5 linked regions of the Homo sapiens genome follow. The protein of the gene in region 1 purifies or fractionates together with the protein of each later gene. This does not show direct contact. Each region holds a gene or a part of one and is shown in the gene's direction. Other genes may lie near its edges. The genes, in order: TMEM44, TNKS, SPAG9, COL1A1 and KLHL13.

The links.
Region 2: the proteins of TMEM44 (region 1) and TNKS purify together in Homo sapiens (affinity purification with mass spectrometry; 2 studies listed by BioGRID and IntAct, with this or other methods). This does not show direct contact.
Region 3: the proteins of TMEM44 (region 1) and SPAG9 purify together in Homo sapiens (affinity purification with mass spectrometry; 2 studies listed by BioGRID and IntAct, with this or other methods). This does not show direct contact.
Region 4: the proteins of TMEM44 (region 1) and COL1A1 purify together in Homo sapiens (affinity purification with mass spectrometry; one large-scale study listed by BioGRID and IntAct). This does not show direct contact.
Region 5: the proteins of TMEM44 (region 1) and KLHL13 purify together in Homo sapiens (affinity purification with mass spectrometry; one large-scale study listed by BioGRID and IntAct). This does not show direct contact.

Annotation. Positions count from the first base shown.
Region 1 is NC_000003.12:194,612,208-194,616,801, reverse strand, and holds part of TMEM44 (transmembrane protein 44), read left to right. Parts: intron 1-1,104; coding exon 1,105-1,233; intron 1,234-4,594.
Region 2 is NC_000008.11:9,708,960-9,713,553, forward strand, and holds part of TNKS (poly [ADP-ribose] polymerase tankyrase-1), read left to right. Parts: intron 1-995; coding exon 996-1,087; intron 1,088-1,182; coding exon 1,183-1,261; intron 1,262-4,594.
Region 3 is NC_000017.11:51,113,275-51,117,868, reverse strand, and holds part of SPAG9 (C-Jun-amino-terminal kinase-interacting protein 4), read left to right. Parts: intron 1-4,594. UniProt on the Homo sapiens protein: The JNK-interacting protein (JIP) group of scaffold proteins selectively mediates JNK signaling by aggregating specific components of the MAPK cascade to form a functional JNK signaling module.
Region 4 is NC_000017.11:50,191,632-50,195,131, reverse strand, and holds part of COL1A1 (collagen alpha-1(I) chain preproprotein), read left to right. Parts: intron 1-31; coding exon 32-85; intron 86-303; coding exon 304-411; intron 412-505; coding exon 506-559; intron 560-684; coding exon 685-783; intron 784-948; coding exon 949-1,002; intron 1,003-1,090; coding exon 1,091-1,189; intron 1,190-2,084; coding exon 2,085-2,138; intron 2,139-2,281; coding exon 2,282-2,335; intron 2,336-2,438; coding exon 2,439-2,492; intron 2,493-2,603; coding exon 2,604-2,657; intron 2,658-3,107; coding exon 3,108-3,152; intron 3,153-3,245; coding exon 3,246-3,344; intron 3,345-3,500. UniProt on the Homo sapiens protein: Type I collagen is a member of group I collagen (fibrillar forming collagen).
Region 5 is NC_000023.11:117,920,840-117,925,433, reverse strand, and holds part of KLHL13 (kelch-like protein 13), read left to right. Parts: intron 1-4,594. UniProt on the Homo sapiens protein: Substrate-specific adapter of a BCR (BTB-CUL3-RBX1) E3 ubiquitin-protein ligase complex required for mitotic progression and cytokinesis.

The DNA of each region.
Region 1 (4,594 bases):
TGCCTCAGCCTCCCGAGTAGCTGGGACTACAGGTGCATGCCAACACGTCTGGCTAATTTTTGTTATTTTTAGTGGAGACTAAAAATGTTTGTATTTTTAGATGCTGACTGTGGTTAATGGCTGTGGCGTGTTGGTGGTGGGGTGTGTGTGAAGGCAAGGCAGGGCCACGCCGTCTGCAGGCGCTAAGAGGGGAATCTTCGCTTGCCTCTTCCAGCTGCCAGTGGAGCTGCAGGAGCTGCTAGTGGCTCCTGGTGTCCCTTGATGCATGGCAGTGTCGTTTACATTTCTGCCTTGCCCTTCATGTGGCCTTCTTCCCTTTGTGTATCTTCGTGTGTCTCCTTTTCTTATAGGGACCCCAGCTGTTGGAGTTAGGGCCCAGTCCAATCCACTATGACTTCATTGTCTAATTGTATCAGCAAGGACCCTACTTCCGAATAAGGTCACAGTCTGGGCCGGGCACGGTGGCTCACGACTGTAATCCCAGCACTTTGGGAGGCCAAGATGGGAGGATCATCTGAGATCAGGAGTTTGAGACCAGCCTGGCCAACATGGTGAAACCCGGTCTCTACTAAAAATACGAAAATTACCCGAGCATGATGGCAGGTGCCCGTAATCCCAGCTACTTGGGAGGCTGAGGCGAGAGAATCGCTTGAACCAGGGAGGCAGGGGTTGCAGTGAGCTAAGATCATACCACCGCACTCCAGCCTGGGTGACAGAGCGAGACTCTGTCTCAAAAAAAAAAAGGGGGTCACATTCAGAGGTGGATCTGAATTTTGAGGGACACTATTCAACCCACTGCATGTATTGTCACTGTAAGCCAGGCCTGTCAAGAAAGACGTTTTCCAAAATGCTTTAGTTTTGCAAATATTTACCATGTCCTTGTTAGGGACAGGGTCACATTGGATGCTGGGCCCTCGTGAGGACAGGAACATCCACCCTAGCCCTGTCTTCAGATGAGCTCCTCTCTGTCCCAGGCAGGATAATACAGGGGAGGGAGGAGAGTAGGTGAGTGGGGAGGGGGGTGGCAGCATGGTGTGGAGGGGTGAAGGGCCACGCTAGGCAGCTGGAATATTCTGCTTCCTACCTTAACTTACACCATCTCAGATTATTTTCCTTTCGTGTGTGATGAAGAGCAAGATGAGACAGGCCTTAGGATTTGCCAAGGAAGCCAGAGAGAGCCCTGACACCCAAGCCCTTTTGACCTGTGCAGAGAAAGAGGAAGAAAACCAGGAGGTGAGGAACGAGGACAAGGTCTCTCTGGCTGGAAAACTCTGGTCCCAGCAACAGTATCTTGAGAAACAGCAGGATACTGCGGACGGACGTGTGAAAGCTGCCTGCCGAGTGTTCTCTGCAGGCGACTCAGACAGCTGTCCTGTCTCGCTGAGGGAATAGTGGCCAAACCTAACACATGACATGTAACGGGCCCTTCCTGTTTACTGGCATGGAGTGGACGGGGCATTGAGCCTCCATGAGGGCCGGGGCTTGGGAATTCCAGAAGTCCCTCCCTGCTTGCCCAGTTGGTCGCTTTATTTTTATTTTTTTTTAATCTATTGATTGATTGAGATGGAGTCTTGCTCTGTTGCCCAGGCTGGAGTGCAGTAGCACAATCTCAGCTCACTGCAACCTCCGCCTCCCAGATTCAAGTAATTCTCCTGCCTCAGCCACCCAAGTAGCTGGGATTACAGGCACATGTCACCACGCCCGGCTAATATTTTGTATTTTTAGTAGAGACAGATGGGGTTTCACCATGTTGGCCAGGCTGGTCTCGAACTCCTGACCTCAGGTGATCTGCCCACCTTGGCCTCCCAAAGTGCTGGGATTACAGGCATAAGCCGTGGTGCGTAGCCCAGTTGGTCACTTTAAAAAGCTACTGTCTATGTTCAAAGCTAAGGGAAGCCTGAATGCCATAGGATCCTCCGGTTTCGCAATTATACAAATGTTTTGAAGTTTTTTGGTCACTTAATGGCTTATATTTTTAGCAATGTAGATGGAATAGTCGCATGCCCACTTGAAGCTTTTGAATAATTTACTTACTGGTAGTTAAGTTCACATGCTACATACCTTAATATATTCATTTTTAAATAATGTGATTTTTGGCCGGGTGCAGTGGCTCATGCCTGTAATCCCAGCACTTTGGGTGGCCAAGGCAGGCAGATTGCTTGAGCTCAGGAGCTCAAGACTAGCCTGGGCAACAGGGTGAAACCCCGTCTCTACCAAAAATACAAAAAAAATTGGCCGGGTATGGTGGTGTGTGCCTGTAGTCCCAGCTACTTAGGAGGCTGAGGCAGGAGGATCTCTTGATCCTGGAGGCAGAGGTTGCAGTGAGCCAAGATGGCGCCACCGCACTACAACCTGAGCTGCAGAGTGAGACCCCATCTCAAAAACATAAGTAAATTATGTGATTTTCACTCATATTTCTTCAAAAACTGTATTCCCACTTTCACATGCATCTTTAATATCCACATCATTACCACCACCTAACACGGTGCTCCAGAGCCTGTCGTCATGCCCAGCTACATGATCCAGCCTTTGGAAATCGGCTTGTGATGCTGCCTCTAGAAAGTCCTCTCAAGCCACGAGGACCCATTTGCTGTTTGTGGTCACTGCAATGTAACTACTTACTCTATTCCTTGTGGTTTTTTTGGTTTTTTGTTTTGTTTTGTTTTATTTTGTTTTTTGGAGACGGAGTTTTGCTCTTGTTGCCGAGGCTGGAGTGCCGTGGCACGATCTCGGCTCACCACAACCTCCGCCTCCCGGGTTCAAGCGATTCTCCTGCCTCAGCCTCCCAAGTAGCTGGGATTACAGGCATGCACCACCATGCCCGGCTAATTTTGTATTTTTAGTAGAGACTGGGTTTCTCCATGTTGGTCAGGCTGGTCTCAAACTCCCAACCTCAGATGATCCGCCCACCTCGGCTTCCCAAAGTGCTGGGATTACAGGTGTGAGCCACCGGGCCCGGCCTATTCTGTTTTTTTATGCTAGAAATCTGATCTTTAAGTGTTGTTTAGGAGGTCATGTGCAGTGGCTCACGCCTGTAATCCCAACACTTTGGGAGGCCGAGGTGGGTGCATCATGAGGTCAGGAGTTCGAGACCAGCCTGACCAACGTGGTGAAACTCCTGTCTCTACTAAAAATACAAAAATTAGCTGGGTGTGGTGGCACGCGCCTGTAATTCCAGCTACTCAGGAGGCTGAGGCAGGAGAATCGCTTGAACCTGGGAGGCGGAGGTTGCAGTAAGCCAAAATCGCACCATTGCACTCCAGCCTAGGCAACAAGAGCAAAACTCCGTCTCGAAAAAAAACTTTTTTTTTAAAGTGTTCATTAAGCCAGGCATGGTGCCTCATGCCTGTAATGCCAGCACTTTGGGAGGCCGAGATGGGCAGATTGCCTGAGCTCAAGAGTTCGAGACCAGCCTGGGCAACGTGGTGAAACTCCGTCTCTACTAAAAATACAAAAATCAGCTGGGCGTGGTGGCGGGCACCTGTAATCCCAGCTACTCAGGAGGCTGAGACATGAGAATCACTTGAACCCAGGAGGCGGAGGTTGCAGTGAGCCGGGATCGTGCCACTGTACTCCAGCCTGGGCAATAAAGTGAAAATCTGTCTCAAGAAAATAAATAAATAAATAAATAAAAATAAAAAATAAGTGTTGTTTACAGCAATATCAAACCTTTACAATTATGTCATGCCACCGGCTAAAGTTAATGCGTCTCCTTTTATTGATTTAAACAGATGACCTCTACAAGTAGTCAGAACTTACTCTAATTGAGGCCATTTGTCTTCATCAAAAGTTTTTGGTTCCAAATAATTGAGAAAGTAACTCAAAGAAAGCTTGTAAGGACTTGAATATAGGCTGGGTGCAGTGGTTCAGGCCTGTAGTCCCAGCACTTTGGGAGGCAGAGGCGGGCGGATCACGAGGTCAGGAGATCGAGACCACAGTGAAACCCCGTCTCTACTAAAAATACAAAAAATTAGCTGGGCGCGGTGGCGGGTGCCTGTAGTCCCAGCTACTCGGGAGGCTGAGGCAGGAGAATGGCGTGAACCCAGAAGGCGGAGCTTGCAGTGAGTCGAGATCCCGCCACTGCACTCCAGCCTGGGCGACAGAGCGAGACTCCGTCTCAAAAAAAAGGACTTGAATATAAAATGGCTCCCTCTTTTCTAAGATTTCAATTTTTTTTTTTTTTTGGAAAAAACTCTCATCTATTACCTGGGCTCTTCACTACCTTAGACTCCTCTCACAGAGAGTGGGTGTGAGGCTGTGAGTAACTTCCTCCGTGGCCAGGATGGAGGAAGTGATGGGGAGTGCATTTGGACCGACAAAAACAAAAACTGCCCCTCCGAATGTTCTCCAAATGGCTTAACCATGTGATCCGACTGAGTCCGTGAAATAGAAGATCGTGGTGTATGTGACGCAGAGGAAAGCATTTTTTATATAGGTGCCCAGACCAAAGAGCCACGTTCCCATGAGGCCCTAGTGGGAAGTTATTTTCATTTCTTTCTAGCAACTGTTAGGAAATTATATTCCAAAAGGGGGCCAAAATATTAACAGAGCCCTGTGTGTCTTGGAATTCTGAAGAGAGAAGTAGAAGCCTCTG
Region 2 (4,594 bases), on another chromosome or scaffold:
ACTATACAAATTATTCTTAAAACTATCCACGTTTTTTTCTTCAAATGCACTTTCGGAAAGATTTATTTATTTTCTTTGTCATTGACACATTAAGGCTCAGCTAGAGAGTGGTTAGTGATCGCTCCTAAATTCAGAATTTAAGCATATGTGATGCCTGCATCACAGACCTTAAATATACCTAATTAATATTCTTACGTATATTTGACACAAAAGATCAAACGTTTGTCAGTATCTGCATAAAACAACATTAAAGGATTGACCAAACTGAAATAGGCTAACTATATGTACACTTAAATACATGTCTCTCAAACTAGGGTTGAGATAGATTCAAGCTACACGGTGTTATGCTAGGAGATATTCATAGCCACAGAATAAACCTGACCCACTTTTTTGGAGTTTTCATTTTATTTAGTTGAAAGTAGTTTTTTATTTTTAAATTTTAATACGAATATTAAAATGAAGCAGAATAAAAAAGTTGTATAAATATTATGTTAAAACCTAAAATTTCTGAGAATATTTTTCTCTAAACTGCTTCAGTTCTATCATTTTCTTGCTTATCCTTGGGCATATAAACGTCTCCTGTAGTGCTGGGAGTACCTCTGTAGAAGAGCTTAGAAATACTGACTTGTGTGGCTGATGGCCTAATGAAAGATTGAGTAACTTAGTTATAGATTTCTGTAGCGTTGCAGAGGCATACGTATTATGATGCTCTCCATGGAATATATAGTGAATATTTATTGATTGGCTAAGCCAAAAGAAATAAGATCTCTCTTAATGTTTAAGAGCATAATTTCACCTTGGTTTAAACGCTTACGTTTTGTATTTCCACTATACGTAGAAAGAATATGGATCATCTCTGTGATATAAAACATATACATATGTTCTGATACTCTGAGATAACAATGTTTTAAATGGTCAGCAGATACTGTTCAATTCCAAGAGCTACTGTACATATGGAAGTGTATTTTATTAACTTGGTTTTGTTTACTTTATAGCACTGTGCTGTGGCCTCTCTGCATCCCAAACGTAAACAAGTGACAGAATTGTTACTTAGAAAAGGAGCAAATGTTAATGAAAAAAATAAAGAGTAAGTATAATTGCAGAAGGAGTTGTTCAGTTCCTAAAGAGGAAATGCAATAAAAGAGAGACAATTACCTTTTCTTTCTTTCCTCTTTTCTGTAGTTTCATGACTCCCCTGCATGTTGCAGCCGAAAGAGCCCATAATGATGTCATGGAAGTTCTGCATAAGCATGGCGCCAAGGTGAGGCACACACCTGAGCAGAGTGCCAGACTCAGCACTGAGCAGCCAGCTGCTCTTAACACTGCTTCTCTCTCTCCGATTTTTCTGAAGAAACTAATTTTATAAAGGACTATTAGTTCGTACTTAAATTCATGGATTCTCCTATAAAGCTGATTTAGATCTTGTTTCTAATAAAAATAATTACCCGTGTTTCTTGATCCTTTAATGTCACCCTTCTGTAAAGCAACAAAATATAGCTATAGTCATTTGAAATAGATTTCATCTTTACATTACTTTCAGTTAATACTATACGGATATATTTTGATAGTGTCCACTTGAATAACAGTTTATCAGAAAATAAATTATGTTAAATGATAGCATCAGAATAGCTCTACTTATTCTAAAAAACATTTGTGGCCAGGCACAGTGGCTCACGCCTGTAATCCCAGCACTTTGGGAGGCCGAGGCAGGTGGATCACGAGGTCAGGAGATGGAGACCATCCTGGCTAAGACGGTGAAACCCCGTCTCTACTAAAAATACAAAAAATTAGCCGGGCGTGGTGGCGGGTGCCTGTAGTCCCAGCTACCCAGGAGGCTGAGGCAGGAGAATGGCATGAACCTGGGAGGCGAAGCTTGCAGTGAGCTGAGATTGCGCCACTACACTCCAGCCTGGGAGACAGAGTGAGAATCTGTCTCAAAAAAAAAAATTGTATGCCTTCAGATTTGTAATAATTTTCTCAACCTCTACACTAAAGAAATATGACATATTTAATAATTTTTACTGGCATTTTCTGAATGGTGTAGTCTGAAACTTTGTCAAGCACTTAAGAGAGGAAAGAAGCAAACTGGTTGTTTTTTAGAGGTGACTTGAAATTATAGATTTTTTCATTCTCAAGAATGTATATTTCAAAGCAGTTGTCTCCAAAGTAGGGTATAGACTCCCTATGGAGCATACAAGATGCCCTGTTGGAAAAATCCTAGCATTTCAATTTATAATACTTTTATTTAAGAATAAGGAAATTCAGATTTACCAATATTGAATACAAAGATGATGCCAGCACTCTCACTAGGTCCACGTGTCAGCCATTGTGACTCGTGATGTCAAGGTTTCCTGAGGTAAGAGTGGGACTTGTTAGTATCGAGGGATTGACAGTGGCAAACTCACTTGTTTGTTCCCTTTCAGCATATTTTGGCATAGTGTACTTTACTTGTGTCCAAATGAGTTGAATTTATGGATATTATCCTAAATGGTAGAACTTTTATAAATATCATACTTGATCAGAGTAGTGACCCTGACAAGGGACACAGGGAGTGACCCTGACATGCTTTTATAGTGTAAAAAGGTGGTCTGGTTATTTTGTGAAGTAGTATTTTAAGGTGTTGTCATAGTTGTGTTCTTTTTAATGAAAATAAAAGGGTTCAAAATTTGTTAATAGTTCTCTGAGGACAAATGACCATGACTTGCATGTAGATACCCTTTAAAAAGGAAACATAATCAGATCCTTAAAGGTAAAAGTTACACACTTTAGGTAAATGATAAAATAACTGCTTTTTTAAAAGAAACTTTAAAAAATGAAGAGAACGTTTTGAACATAGATTTTTAGAAAATGTTCACTTTTCTGTGATTTTGCTGAAAAATGATATAAATGAATCACCCAGCCGTCATATCTACATAATTTAAACACATAAAAACAGAATTTTCTCACCTGTTCAAAAGCCTTCCTTAATTTGGTTTTAGGGTAGATTTTGAATCTATTCAAAACATTGTAATGCAGCACTTCCTAATAACTTCGCAAGAACATCAGTAAAGATGGAATTTTACTACAGAATTTCAATGAAAGCCTTAGCATAATTAGTAAATTACATTAAAATTAGGCATTCTGATTGAGTAGGCATAGTTAACAATGCATTTATTTCATTGGCTCCATGAATCTGTATGAAATCTTTGCAACTAATATAGCCATTCAAACTAATTATCAAAAATGAACTTAGAGCCACGTGTAGTGGCCCGTAATCACTCCTGTAATCCCAGAGCTTTAGGAGGCAAAGGCAGAAGGATTGCTTGAGGCCAGGAGTTCGACACCAGCCTGGGCAACACAGCAAGACACTATCTCTACAAAAAATTTAAAAATTAGCCAGTCGTGGTGGTGTGCACCTATAGTCCTAGCGACTCGGGAGGCTGAGGCAGGAAGATCACTTGATCCCAGGAGTTTGAGGCTGCAGTGAGGTATGATCATACCACTGTACTGCAGCCTGGGCAACAGAGCAAGACTCTGTCTCTAAAGAAAAATGAAATGAACCTAAAATTAAACCCTCAAATTCCTAATATCACAATTTTTATAAGTTTTTTTAAATGTTTAAACTACAGTCAATGGATATTTTCTAGCATAAGTAATTAAAATATGTTTTGGACAGGTACCATAGCCTATGCCTTAATCCCAGCACTTTGGGAGACTGAGGTGGGAGGATCGCTTGAGCCCAGGATTTTGAGATCAGCTGGGCAACACAGGCCAACCCCGTCTCTACAAATAATAAAAAAAAATAGCCAGATGTGGTGGTGCATTCCTGTAGTCCCAGCTACTCGGGAGGCTGAGGTGGGAAAATCACTTGAGCCCAAGAGGTCGAGGCTGTAGTGAGCTGTAATCATGCCACTACACTGTAGCCTGGGTGACAGAGCAGTACTCTATCTCAGAAAATAATAATCATGAAATCTTTTTAAATTTTTAATTATTTCATCTCTTTCTCATCCTTCATAAATTCTCTTTGTGTAAGTTTTATAATAGTATAGCACTTCTTGGTTATAATTTACAAAGAAATTCATATATATATATTAAGTGTTCTCAAAACTTTTCTACCTGGAGGGTGTGTGATTTAAAAATTTGGATATCACTGCCTTAAAATGGCACTTTATGTTTTTAATTTATGAAATGAAGACAAAGTGGAATAAAAGGGAACAGAGTTCTACAGATGTATTACCTATTTTGTAGGTACAACTACTGCATTATTATATAAGTAGCATCTTGTTGCTCTTTCAAGCAGAAAACACTAAGCTAAGTGACATTTCTGCTACACTTAGGAGCTTTGTACATTTATCTTTGACCCGTTTTTGCAAATATCTAATGACATTTATAATGCTCTTGAAAAATTAGGAATAATGCCCTTCATTTTGGGAAAATAGTATCTATTTATTGTCTCCCATCAGGCATTTTAGTTTATAAAGGTTCAATGGAAAATAACATTATGACTTGTTCTAGTCAGCCTTTCTCTAGGTCTGTGGTTCTCACTCTTTATTTGCCCTTTATGTGCACAGTACATTTTCATCAGTAACATCTTAGTTCATTACTAGCCCTGTCA
Region 3 (4,594 bases), on another chromosome or scaffold:
AGCCACCACACCCGGCCATCAGTTTTCACATAAGATCATAAATTGTGTGTTGCTCAGTATCCAGAAATTGTCTCCCTTTGGCCAATATGTAGAGTGAATTCTGTGTTTAGTTTTCTGTGAGTGCTTTGTTTGCGCCTTTTTTTTTTTTTTTTTTTTTTTTGAGACGGAGTCTTGCTCTGTCACCCAGGCTGGAGTGCAGTGGCACAATCTTGACTCACTGCAGCCTCCGCCTCCCGGGTTCAAGCGATTCTGCCTCAGCCTCTTGAGTAGCTGGGATTACAAGCACGTGCCACCACGCCTGGCTAATTTTTTTGTATTTTTGGTAGAGACGGGGTTTCACCATTTTAGCCAGGATAGTCTCAATCTCCTGACCTCGTGATCTGCCCGCCTCAGCCTCCCAAAGTGCTGGGATTACAGGCATGAGCCACCGTGCCGGCCTGTTTGTGTCTTTAATGCGGAGACCAAGAGTCTTTTATACCAAAGTAAGTGCCTCAGGGTATTTACAGCAAAAGTGATTTGAAAGCATGGAAATTATCCATCACCAGAGAGAGTAAAGTAAATTCTGAGCACCTCTGTGGAAACTTAGGTGGGTATGTAGATAGAATGTTTTAGGAATGTGTGAGGTGCTATGATCTCTTGCTTGCAGGAATTCTCAGCAAGGCATCAAAAATTTAATCTTTATATTGATAGGACATATTTTGAATACCTTCTGACTTTTTCCTTTGCTTTTATTTGAATTTCTAGTGTGGAGCTAGTCTGCTGTTTTAGGGATTCTTTAAAAACAACCTAAAGAAGGGCTAATTTTAGATAGATTTGGACCGGTTTCAGATGCTAATCAAGAAATCTGTCATCTTATCGCCCATCACTCTCTCCTTTGGGCTGCCTGTGACACACCTCTCCATTCTTTAACCAAGACCCGTCTGATGCCTTTGCCCATGCTCTAGAATGCTCTCCTTAGAATTTTACATAGCTAGCTCCTCACTTTCTACTCTGTTTCAATTTCACTTTTTCAGCCAGAACATCCTGTTGACTCTATCCAGAATAAGCCCTGTGAACCTATTGAATAATTTATTTTAAAATCAGTGACTTTTAAATTTAAATTCTTTTTGGAGACAGAGTCTCAATCGCCTAGGCTGGGGTGTAGTGGCACAGTCACAGTTCACTGCAGCCTCAATCTCTTGGGCTCAAGTGATCCTCTTGCCTCAGCCTCCTGAGTAGCTAGGACCACAGACATGCGTTACCACACTGGGCTAATTAAATTTTTTACAGAGACAAGGTCTCACTGTGTTGCCCAGTCTGGTCTGGAACTCCTGGGCTCAAGTGATCCTCCTGCCTTGTGGATCCTGCCAAAGTGTTGGGACTTACAGGGGTGAGCCACTGTGCCCCAGCCCAGTGATTTTTTAAAATAAAAATCTGGATACAAAATGATCTGGAGAGAGAGGTTATAACTGGGTATGTTAGGGTTTTTCTGCAACTTCTGATTCTTTTAAAACAGGCATGATTTGCTGTAACTTTTAAAAAAGGGCCAGGTGTGGTGGCTCACATCTATAGTCCCAGCACTTTGGGAGGCCGAGGCAGATGGATCACTTGAGGTCAGGAGTGTGGGACCAGCCTCGCCAACATGATGAAACCCTGTCTGTACTAAAAATACAAAAATTATCTGGGTGTGGTGGTGGGTGCCTGTAATCCCAGCTACTGGGGAGGCTGATGCAGAAGAATTGCTTGAACCCGGGAGATGGAGGTTGCAGTGAGCTGGGATCGTGCCTCTGTACTCCAGCCTGGGCAGTAGAGTGAGACTACCTCTCAAAAAAGAAAAAAGAAAAAAAAAAGAAACTTCTGAAAAGTAGACATACGAGTTTAAAGAACCTTTAGGAATTTAGTTCTTAGTGATTCTGTGGGTCTTTTATGTTATCACTGTTATTCTCAAAGTGAGAGCTCATTTAGCATCATTCAGTAGAGGGAGATTACACATAAAAACGAAGAGGCATTGTCTTCCTTCCTTTTCTTTTTCTTTTCTTTTCTTTTCTTTTCTTTTTTTTTGAGATGGAGTTTCTCTTGTTGCCCAGGCTAGAGTGCAATGGTGCCATCTCGGCTCACTGCAACCTTCGCCTCCTGGGTTCAAACAGTTCTCCTGCCTCAGCCTCTCAAGTAGCTGGGATTACAGGCATGCGCCACCACGCCTGGCTAATTTTGTATTTTTAGTGGAGTTGGGGTTTCTGCATGTTGGTCAGGCTGGTCTTGAACTCCTGACCTCAGGTGATCCGCCCGCCTTGGCCTCCTAAAGTGCTGGGATTGCCACTGTGAACCACCGCGCCTGGCTCCTTCCCTCCTTTTTGAGATAGACTCATACATGCAGAGAATGGACTGAAGAGAGAATATCTTTACTGGGAATGGATTATGTGATTTTGTGTCTGCTTTTTTGTGGCCTTTTGCTTTAAAAAAAAAAAAAAAAGGATGAGTTCAAGCCTGGGCAACGTAGTGAGACCCCTCTTCCCCAAAAACCATAAAAAAAATTAGTTGGGTGTGATGGTGTGAGCCTGTAGTCCTAGCTACTCAGGAGGCTAAGGCAGGAGGATCACTTAAGCCCAGGAGTTTGAGACTGCAGTGAGTTATCATGGCCACGGCACTCCAGCCTTGACAACAGGGCAAGACCCTGTTTCTTACCAAAAAACAAAACAATAGGATGACTGAATGCAGAGGTGAGAGACACTACTGAGAATTTTCTAACTTGTTCCCATGGAATCAGCACTTAAAGCAGTAACAAAATGATTTTTGTTTAAATGGAGACTTTTGACACTTCTTGTCTTTGGAAGTGTATGAACATGGGACCCGTAAGACTCATGGGCAGGAAAATAGGTATTGACATTCATTGTTCTTGTTTTAGTGTTCTCATTCATTCATAATTTTTTTTTTTTTTGAGACAGAGTCTCACTCTGTCACCCAGGCTGGAGTGCAGTGGCACTATCCCAGCTCATTGCAACCTCTGCCTCCCAGGTTCAAGCAATTCTCCTGCCTCAGCTGCCTGAGTAGCTGGGATTACAGGTGTGCACCACTACACCCGGCTAATTTTTGTATTTTCAGTAGAGACAGGGTTTCACCATGTTGGCCAGGGTGGTGTAAAACTCCTGACCTCAAGTGATTCATCTGCCTCAACCTCCCAAAGTGCTGGGATTACAGGCGTGAGCCACCACACTTGGCCCACACTTGATATTTTATTTTTTAATTTTATTTATTTTTGAGACTGAGTTTCACGCTCTGTTGCCCAGGCTGGGGTGCAGAGGCACGATCTTGGCTTACTGCAACCTCTGCCTTCTGGATTCAAGCAGTTCTTCTGTCTCAGCCTTCTGAGTAGCTGGGATTATAGGCATGAGCCACCATGCCCAGCTACTTTTTGTATTTTTAGTAGAGATGGGGTTTCACCATGTTAGCCAGGCTGGTCTTGAACTCCTGACCTTGTTATCTGCCTACCTTGGCCTGCCAAAGTGTTGGGATTACAGGCATGAGCCACCATGCCTGGCCCATTTTTTAAAAAATTTATTTTTGAGACAGAGTCTTGTGCTGTCGCCCAGGCTGGAGTGCAGTGGTGCGATCTCAGATCACTGTAACTCCCACCTTCCAGGTTCAAGCAATTCTCCTGCCTCAGCCTCCCTAGTAGTTTGGGATTACAGGCACGCGCCAGCACGCCCGGCTAATTTTTGTAGTTTTAATAGAGAAGGGGTTTCACCATGTTGTCCAGGCTGGTCTCAAACTCTTGACCTCAGGTGATCCCCCTGCCTCGGCCTCCCAAAGTGCTGGGATTACAAGCGTGAGCCACCGCACCTGGCCTAAAAAACACATATTTTAATATTTTTATAGATCTTTTGATTGATTGATTGAGACGAGATCTCACTCTGTTGCCCAGGCCAGAGTGCAGTGGTGTAATCCCGGCTGACTGCAACCTCTGCCTCCTGGGTTCAAGCGATCCTCCCATCTCAACTTCCGGAATAGCTGGGACTACAGGATCATGCCGCCATGCCTGGCTAATTTTTGTATTTTTTGTAGAAATGGGTTTCCCATGTTGCCCAGGCTGATCTTGAATATTTGGGCTCAGACATTCCTCGCACCTCAGCCTCCCAAAGTGCTGTGATTACAGGTGTGAGCCACTGCACCCAACCTATTTTCTTTTGTTGTTGTTGTTTTTTTTTTTTTTGAGATGGGGTCTTGCTTTGCCACCCATGCTGGAGTGCAGTAGCGCGATCTTGGCTCACTGCAACCTCTGCCTCCCGGGTTCAAGCAGTTCTCCTGCCTCATCCTCCTGAGTAGCTGGGACTACAGGTGCTCACAACCACACCTCGCTAACTTTTGTATTTTTAATAGAGATGGGGTTTTACCATGTTGTCCAGGCTGGTATTGAACTCCTAACCTCAGGTGATCCACCTGCCTTGGCCTCCCAAAGTGCTGGGATTACAGGTGTGAGACACTGTGCCCGGCCAACCTATTTGCTTTTTCTTTTCTTTCTTTTTTTTTTTTTTTTTTGATATGGCATTTCACACTTGTTGCCCAGGCTGGAGCGCAATGGTGCGATCTCAGCTCACTGCAACCTCCGCCTCCCAGA
Region 4 (3,500 bases), on another chromosome or scaffold:
TCTCAGCTCATCCTCTTCTCCCCCCTTGCAGGGTGAACCTGGTGCTCCTGGCAGCAAAGGAGACACTGGTGCTAAGGGAGAGCCTGTAAGTCTCCCCGCCATCCTTCTTGCAGCCCAGCCCACCCTGCCCTAGGAGCCCCCTGAGGGAAATCCAGAAAGGAAGAGGAGCCCCTAGTCTTCTGGGGGAGTCCCTGCCACACCCCCAGGAACCCCTGACACTGGAGGCCCAGCCTCAGCCGGCTCTGAGGCTGGCACAGGATGGCCCCTCACCACAGGCCGCCTCCTCCTCTCGGCCCTCTCCAGGGCCCTGTTGGTGTTCAAGGACCCCCTGGCCCTGCTGGAGAGGAAGGAAAGCGAGGAGCTCGAGGTGAACCCGGACCCACTGGCCTGCCCGGACCCCCTGGCGAGCGTGTAAGTGTCCCTGCCCGCCCCCTCCCGCTCCACCCTCATTGCCTGGCTGGTGCCTGTGTGTCGCGGAGTTCACTGGCCTCCTCTCCTCCTGCAGGGTGGACCTGGTAGCCGTGGTTTCCCTGGCGCAGATGGTGTTGCTGGTCCCAAGGTAACCTCTCCTTGCGGCCGGGGGGCTGACCCTGCCGCTCCCTGGGCATCTTCTTCCTCTTTTGGCCCGTGGCAAAGAGCCACAAACTTGAGACCCTAACTGTTCCTGTGACTTCCCCCAACCAGGGTCCCGCTGGTGAACGTGGTTCTCCTGGCCCTGCTGGCCCCAAAGGATCTCCTGGTGAAGCTGGTCGTCCCGGTGAAGCTGGTCTGCCTGGTGCCAAGGTGAGGCCCCAGGCTTTCAGCCTGGCTTGGCCAGGCCCTGACCATCCCGTGTAGGGTCTGGGATGAGGCGTTCTGGATCAGGCCCAAGGGTCTGCCCTCTGGAGTCCTCCCCCACCTCCATCATGCTTCTCCCCAAGTCCCACTCATACCTCTCTGCCTCCCTAGGGTCTGACTGGAAGCCCTGGCAGCCCTGGTCCTGATGGCAAAACTGGCCCCCCTGTAAGTATCACTCCCCCTGAACCCCCTGCCATTGTCCTGTCTGCCTCCCTGCTGTCCTCACTGCTGCTTTCGTGCCTCCCATCCTTAGGGTCCCGCCGGTCAAGATGGTCGCCCCGGACCCCCAGGCCCACCTGGTGCCCGTGGTCAGGCTGGTGTGATGGGATTCCCTGGACCTAAAGGTGCTGCTGTGAGTATTAAGTGAGGATCCATGAAGAGCCAGGGACAAACACACCTGAGACTTGAAGGAGTCCTGGGCTCTGGGCTCAGCTGTGCCGCTGACCTGCCGTGTGGCCACTCACTCTCACTTTCTGGACCTCAGCCTCCCTATCTGTAAAATGAAAGACTTCTCGGCGGGGCACGGTGGCTCATGCCTGTAATCCCAGCACTTTGGGAGGCCAAGGCGGGCAGACCATGAGGTCAGGAGTTTGAGACCAGTCGGGCCAACATAGTGAAACCACGTCTCTACTAAAAATACAAAAGATTAGCTGGGTGTGGTGGTGTGCACCTGTAACCCCAGCTAGTCAGGAGGCTGAGGCAGGAGAATTGCATGAACCCGGGAGGTGGAGGTTGCAGTGAGCTGAGATCACGCCATTGCACTCCAGCCTGGGCAACAGTGCGAGATTCCATCTCAAAAAAAAAAAAAAAGAAGAAAGAAAGAAAGAAAAAATGAAACACTTCTCCAGGCTCCATGACCACTGCTCTGTCCTGGAAATAAGTGTTGTTGGTGGCCCTCCACCCCGACACGTGGGGATAGGACAGGCCTTTGATATGATAGGCACCCCCAGTCTTGGTGGATTCTTTGAGGTCCAAAAGGAGATAGCAGAGAAGATGAAAGCCCTTTGCAGTGCAGGCCACAGCGGGCATCTAACAGGGAAAAGGCAGAGGAGCCTGGAAGGGCATCTTGGGAGGAGTGGGCTCAGAAAGGGCCCAGCAAGAAGCACCTGCAGGGGCATTCCCCGGGGGCCAAACAGTCTTTTGAAAAGAAAGTCCCTTAAAAAGTCCCACTCAGAGTAAATGAGAGGCCCCAGGAGGCCCTGGCTTCTCACTTCAGCCCCCTCAACCCTAACTCCCTTTCTCCACAGGGAGAGCCCGGCAAGGCTGGAGAGCGAGGTGTTCCCGGACCCCCTGGCGCTGTCGTAAGTATCTCCTTTCCATCCCTACCTCCTTCCCATTGCTGCCCCGGCACTTTCTCCTCCCTGCAGGAGGGGTGCTAGAGGCCACGGTCCTCAGCTGCTCGGGGCCTCCTAACCCTGAGTTCCCCTTTGCTCTCTCCCTGCAGGGTCCTGCTGGCAAAGATGGAGAGGCTGGAGCTCAGGGACCCCCTGGCCCTGCTGTGAGTGTCCCTGATGGGGAGATCTGGGGAGCAGAAAAGGGGAGACACCCTCAGCCCCTCGTCTCCTCGGCCTCCCCGTGACTGTAGTGTTCTCTCTGTGCAGGGTCCCGCTGGCGAGAGAGGTGAACAAGGCCCTGCTGGCTCCCCCGGATTCCAGGTGAGGCCTCATGGCTGTCAGGATGCTGGGAGGTAGGGGTAGGAAACACCTCTTTGGTCTCTTCCAGATTCTAAACCTTCCCTCCCTTCTTCCCCCATTTCCCACCTACAGGGTCTCCCTGGTCCTGCTGGTCCTCCAGGTGAAGCAGGCAAACCTGGTGAACAGGTAAGAGGGAGCAGCCGGCCAGAGGGGTGGGAGATGCAGGGAATCCAGAGGGACAGGCCCCCGCTCCTAGCTAATCAGACAGCCATCAACTAGAGGGATTGAGGTTAGACGCCGGAAAGAACTTCCTCCCATGAAGGGAGCAGCACAGAGGGAAGTGGGGGCTGCATGATTGCTAGTCTGGGTGACTTCTTTTAAGAGCTGCTGGAATATGCTGTGACTTTCCCTCAACCCTTCTATTGATAAATCTTGGTCCATAGTTTGGGGAGGGGGGAAGCCTTTGACACATCCCTAGGAGGAAGAGAGGGGCTGTTTGGGATAATCTCAATTCAGTGCTGAGAAGGGGTTCCTCTCTAATCACGGCCAGACCCCAGGAGGAAGGACCGTGCTTTCCAGCAGAGTGGCCCCAGGTGGGTTTTGCTCACTGTCTGTTCCTCTCTCCCTCCCCCTCAGGGTGTTCCTGGAGACCTTGGCGCCCCTGGCCCCTCTGGAGCAAGAGTAAGTAGGCCTCTCTCGCTGCATCCGTCAAGGTGCGTCGTACTTGGCCCTATCTCCAGAGCAGCCTTCACATGCCCTGTCCTTCCCTTCTAGGGCGAGAGAGGTTTCCCTGGCGAGCGTGGTGTGCAAGGTCCCCCTGGTCCTGCTGGTCCCCGAGGGGCCAACGGTGCTCCCGGCAACGATGGTGCTAAGGTGAGGGCAGCGTGGAAGGGGCTCTGGCAAGTGGCCCAGGGACCAGGTCTCACCCCTCCTGCAGCAGGGGATGGCGGGCCATGACCAAAGCCATGGAGATAGGGTGTGGGGTGGGGGGAAAAGACCAGGGCAGGGGCCCACACACAGCCTGGAGTC
Region 5 (4,594 bases), on another chromosome or scaffold:
TCTTAACTTTCTTTAGTTCCTTAATCTTTGTTCATAGAACATATTTTCCATTATAATTTTAACTACTCTTTTCAGGATGTGTTTCGTTTTTTCTCTACTTAAAATGACAATGATCAAAACTAGATATAATATGCTAGTAAGTTTGTTCTAATGTAGAATTTAGTTGAATTATTTGTTTATCAAATTCCTTTTAAATACCTGACAGTATCAATGTAGCTTTTTTTCACAATAGCATTATATTTCACTTGAAAGCTATTGACATCCAAGTAATTTTTATACAAATTATTCATAGCTTGTCTGGTTTCCATGTTATAATCCTGTAATATCAAGTCATATTCTATTCTGTTTTAATATGATCATTTTAAAATTTATCAAACTCATTAGATGTTTCAGACTTTCTTTGTTTCCTGGTATTAGATATGTACCTCTCTCTATTTAATAGAGGTTGAAGTTTTGATACATTGGGTAAGTTTAATACAGTGAAGAGAAAAAACATGTTTAAAAACATTAAACATTAAACATTAAAACATTAAACATTAAAAATAGCATTAAAATGCTATTTTCCAGCATCAAAATAGCATTAAATGACGCTATTTTTCCAGGATATGGAGAAGAAAATAAAGGAAGATATGGGGAGATTTATAGAAGAAGAAAGGGAAATATTAAAGAAATTGAGGACAGACAAACCCCTCTTAAATCAAACCCAAGGCACAGAGACAGAAAAGTAGAGAACTAAGATAAGTGTTGAGATAGAGAGACTGGAAAGATGATGAGTTTAAATCAACAGAAGCAGTTTTAAGGACATTCTGAAAAACTAATTAGAAACTGAACAATTTGCCTAAAGCAGAGCTGCATAGGTATATGGTATACTAGCATATGGAAACAGACAAAAATGTTCATGTAAATCTTTCAAGAAGAGTGAGTACAAGTTTGGTGAAAGAAAATGATTTTACAGTAAAAGGACTTATTTCGAGTGTGCAGGAATCTTTGAAAGGCTTCTTAAATAGGGGAAAAGATTTATGAGTGAAAGCAAAAAGTAGATATATAGAAGGCAGATGAGAATTTTGGAAGATAATGAACCTCTCTCTTTTTCTTTTAATGTATGCATACTTCACTAGAAGATTAGAGAATAAAAGGTGTTTAGAGAAATGACTGCCTTCTTGTACACAACAATGTGTATAGTCAGAAGGAGCTTCTCTTTAGACAGAACTGGGATATCTGGAAAATAATATACAAACAAGATGTTTAGAATTTGTTTGAAAACAATCTGAATTGACAGATATCATTTGGATAAAGATAGACATAACGTAGAATAAAATTCACTAATATGGAATTGGATAGTGGGGTCATTCATTTATGCATATAAAAATAAAGGTTATGAAATGTTTAGAAAGGGACACTGTATGTTGTGAAAATAAATGTAAAACCTTACAAAAGCAGATAACTTGCCAAAGGTAGATACATTAAGCGTGGAATAAAAGACACTCCGAATTTGTTAAAAATGCTCTAGGTGCCTTAACTTCTTTTCTTTTGGGACACCAGATTATACTGAGAAAGGTTAAAGGATTTTTTAAAAATGATAGTGTAAAGGGACACAAAATGATAAAATCTGTGAAAAGAATAAAAGCTCCCGGTGTCTTAGCTGAGCAAAGCTGTCCAGATCTTGAGCATTGATTACATACCTCCACAAGCAGTTTGAATGGAATATGGACAAAACAAGAAATTACACAGCTGACGATACATGATGCACAAGCTACTCCTCTTTTCAGAGGGAAAAAAAAGTAATATGTAGTAGGAATGGAACATACTGACATTATTCAATTCCAATTGTAAAATATTTGCAGGAATATTTTAAAGGCAGGAGGCTAGCAAATAAGCCAAGAAGGTTTTGTTTGTTTGTTTGTTTTTGTTCTTTAGTGGAAGAAAATAATGGATCAGATACAATCATTGCTTTTGAATAAATAATCCAGAATTTCTTTATAAAGATATTGTCTACGTATGCTTTAGAGAAGAAGAATAAAAAACTATTTGATAAATAAACATAAAGGGGGCATACAGTACCTAGACTCATCTCATTAGTATCTTGACATCTCTTTTTTATGCCAATGCCCAAGGTATGTTACTTTTCCCAAGAAAAATCAAATCCTTTAACTTGCCATTAGCTATTCAAAACTTTAAAAATAAATATCCTTCGAACCAACAACTCCAGTCCTGAGAATATCTCCCACAGATATACTTAGACAGCTAAGTGTATGTACAAGGAAGTTAATTGCGGCATTGCTTATAACTGCAGAATTTGAGGGAAAACCTGAGTGTTCAACTAAGCGGGAATGGATAAATAACTTATGACATGCCCCTACTGTAGATTACTGTGCATGCACTAAAAGAATGAAATAAATCCTGTGCACTGAGATAGAAGACTATCTGTGTTATCTGCTCAAGTGAATTTTAAAATGCACAACAGTATGTATAGTAACCCACTTTAAAGAGGCCTTTATATATTTTAATACAAGCATAATGTAGATTATGATATATAGAGAATGAGGTCTTGAAGTATGCTTACTAAACTGTTAACAGTGGTTACTTCTAGTAAGTGAAAGAGGTAGCCTTTAAGTTTTTAACTTATATCCTTCTGTATTTTGACTTCAAAAAACATACAAGCACATATTTAATTTTTTAAACCTGAAATTTATATGAGGGATAAAACAAACACAAGTTTGGGAGCCAACGTTTTCTCCCCAACTCCTGGTTCACTACCTTTTCTCTTACCTTAACCTTTACCACTACCACAAACTACCACAAACGAACACAAACGAACACTTTAAGCACAACTCATTTTATTATTGGGAGAGGTTTCACAAATAAGTTCCTGGTTTCCAGTTAACTTGTTGCAAAGTTTACATCCTACCCAATGTGACTACATGGCTTTAAAGTTACCAGTGGTAGCTTCTGAGTAAAATTTTGTTTGTTTGTTCATGCGTTAATGGAACATATATTAAGTACCAACAGTATGCCAAACACTGGGGAATTCAAAGATGCTAGTCTCTCAACTGTTTCAGCTGATGCTTGACTATCCTCTCCCACACCCTAGTGTCCTCATTCACTGCTTCCCAATACTCTACATTTGAAAGGTGATTCCCACAAATTTATTGCAATTTAGACCCCATATATCAATGCCGAGATCGCGCCACTGCACTCCAGCCTGGGCGACAGAGCGAGACTCTGTCTCAAAAAAACAAAACAAAAAAAGAGCTGAAGTGACTCTTCTCATGCCTTCAGCATGAGAATATTCCCTTAAAATTGGCATCTCTTTTTATAAGATGAGCTATTATTATTTTACTTCTACTTTTCTAAATAACAGAGACAGCAGACGAATTAGTAATGGAAAATAAAAATAGTGGCATAGGATATATAATGTTTGGGTTTACAAAGAAAAAGGGGCATTTGTGAAAGATTTGATATTTGTTAACATAAACATGTCAATCATTGTTGGAAAAAGAAAAATATGATATATAATCTTGTTTTAAAGTGTATGTATAATGTATAAATATTTTTGGAATAAAAATATTCATCTCTTTCCCTAGAGGGAGAGTGGCTGGATCAGATCATCTCTTTGAAGTTCCAGTTCTGTAATTCAAGCATTTTCTTTAAAAAGCTTTAAAATTAAAATGAGAAGCTTAACTAGGGTTTATACTACACATATGTGTAGGATCAATATTTTTAAAACTGCATTCTTAATATGTTATGCCTTTTGCTCTTTAAATCTGTGAAACAAAACATAGTTTTATTTGAAGTCATTAAAATATGAAGGGGACAGAGTAATCAATGCTGTTGGTTCTTACTGTATTATATTATTAGAAAGCAATTTGTGTATTTTGTGTATCTGTCTTCCTGGTTTTTTATAATGAAACATTTCTATCTTTGAAACTACAGACTCAATCTTGCCAAAATGTTCATTTTTTGTATCATTGTTAAATTGCATATTGTTCCCTTTTGGTGTACTTTAGTAGCCTGTTACAATCTTTTTAAATTCGTTATTCTTAATCGACAAATAAACATTATATATAATTTGTCATGTAAAACATGATATTTTAATCACATCATGGTAAATGGGGTATCCATCCCCTAAAGCATACATCTCTGTACCCACAAAAATTAAAAATAAAAGATAAAAATTGAAAAACATGATGTTTTGAAATATGTGTATGTTGTAGATTCAACCTGTTATAATCTTAAAAGTGATTGTCATTCTTCCAACTTATATCAATAGAACAACTGTCTATTTGTCGTTAGTTGAGACCATCAGGGTGTAGTGAAAAAGCTAATCAACAAGGATTCTTCTCACCAGAGCTCTGTCACTCCTCTGAATTGTGGCTGCTAGCCTGTTAATTCTCCACTAAACCTTTAGGCATTTGGAGACAATTAAGTCTCATGTTGGGGTTTCCTGGGCTTTTTTTTGTTTTTTTTCAAACAAAGATAATTAAGTCTCAAACTTGAAACTTGAAAGATATTTGGCCAGGCAGCAGCAATGTACTGAGTATAGGCTTCTCAAAGAGATGAAGTAATACAATTAGTAGAAAGAACTATCGTGTAC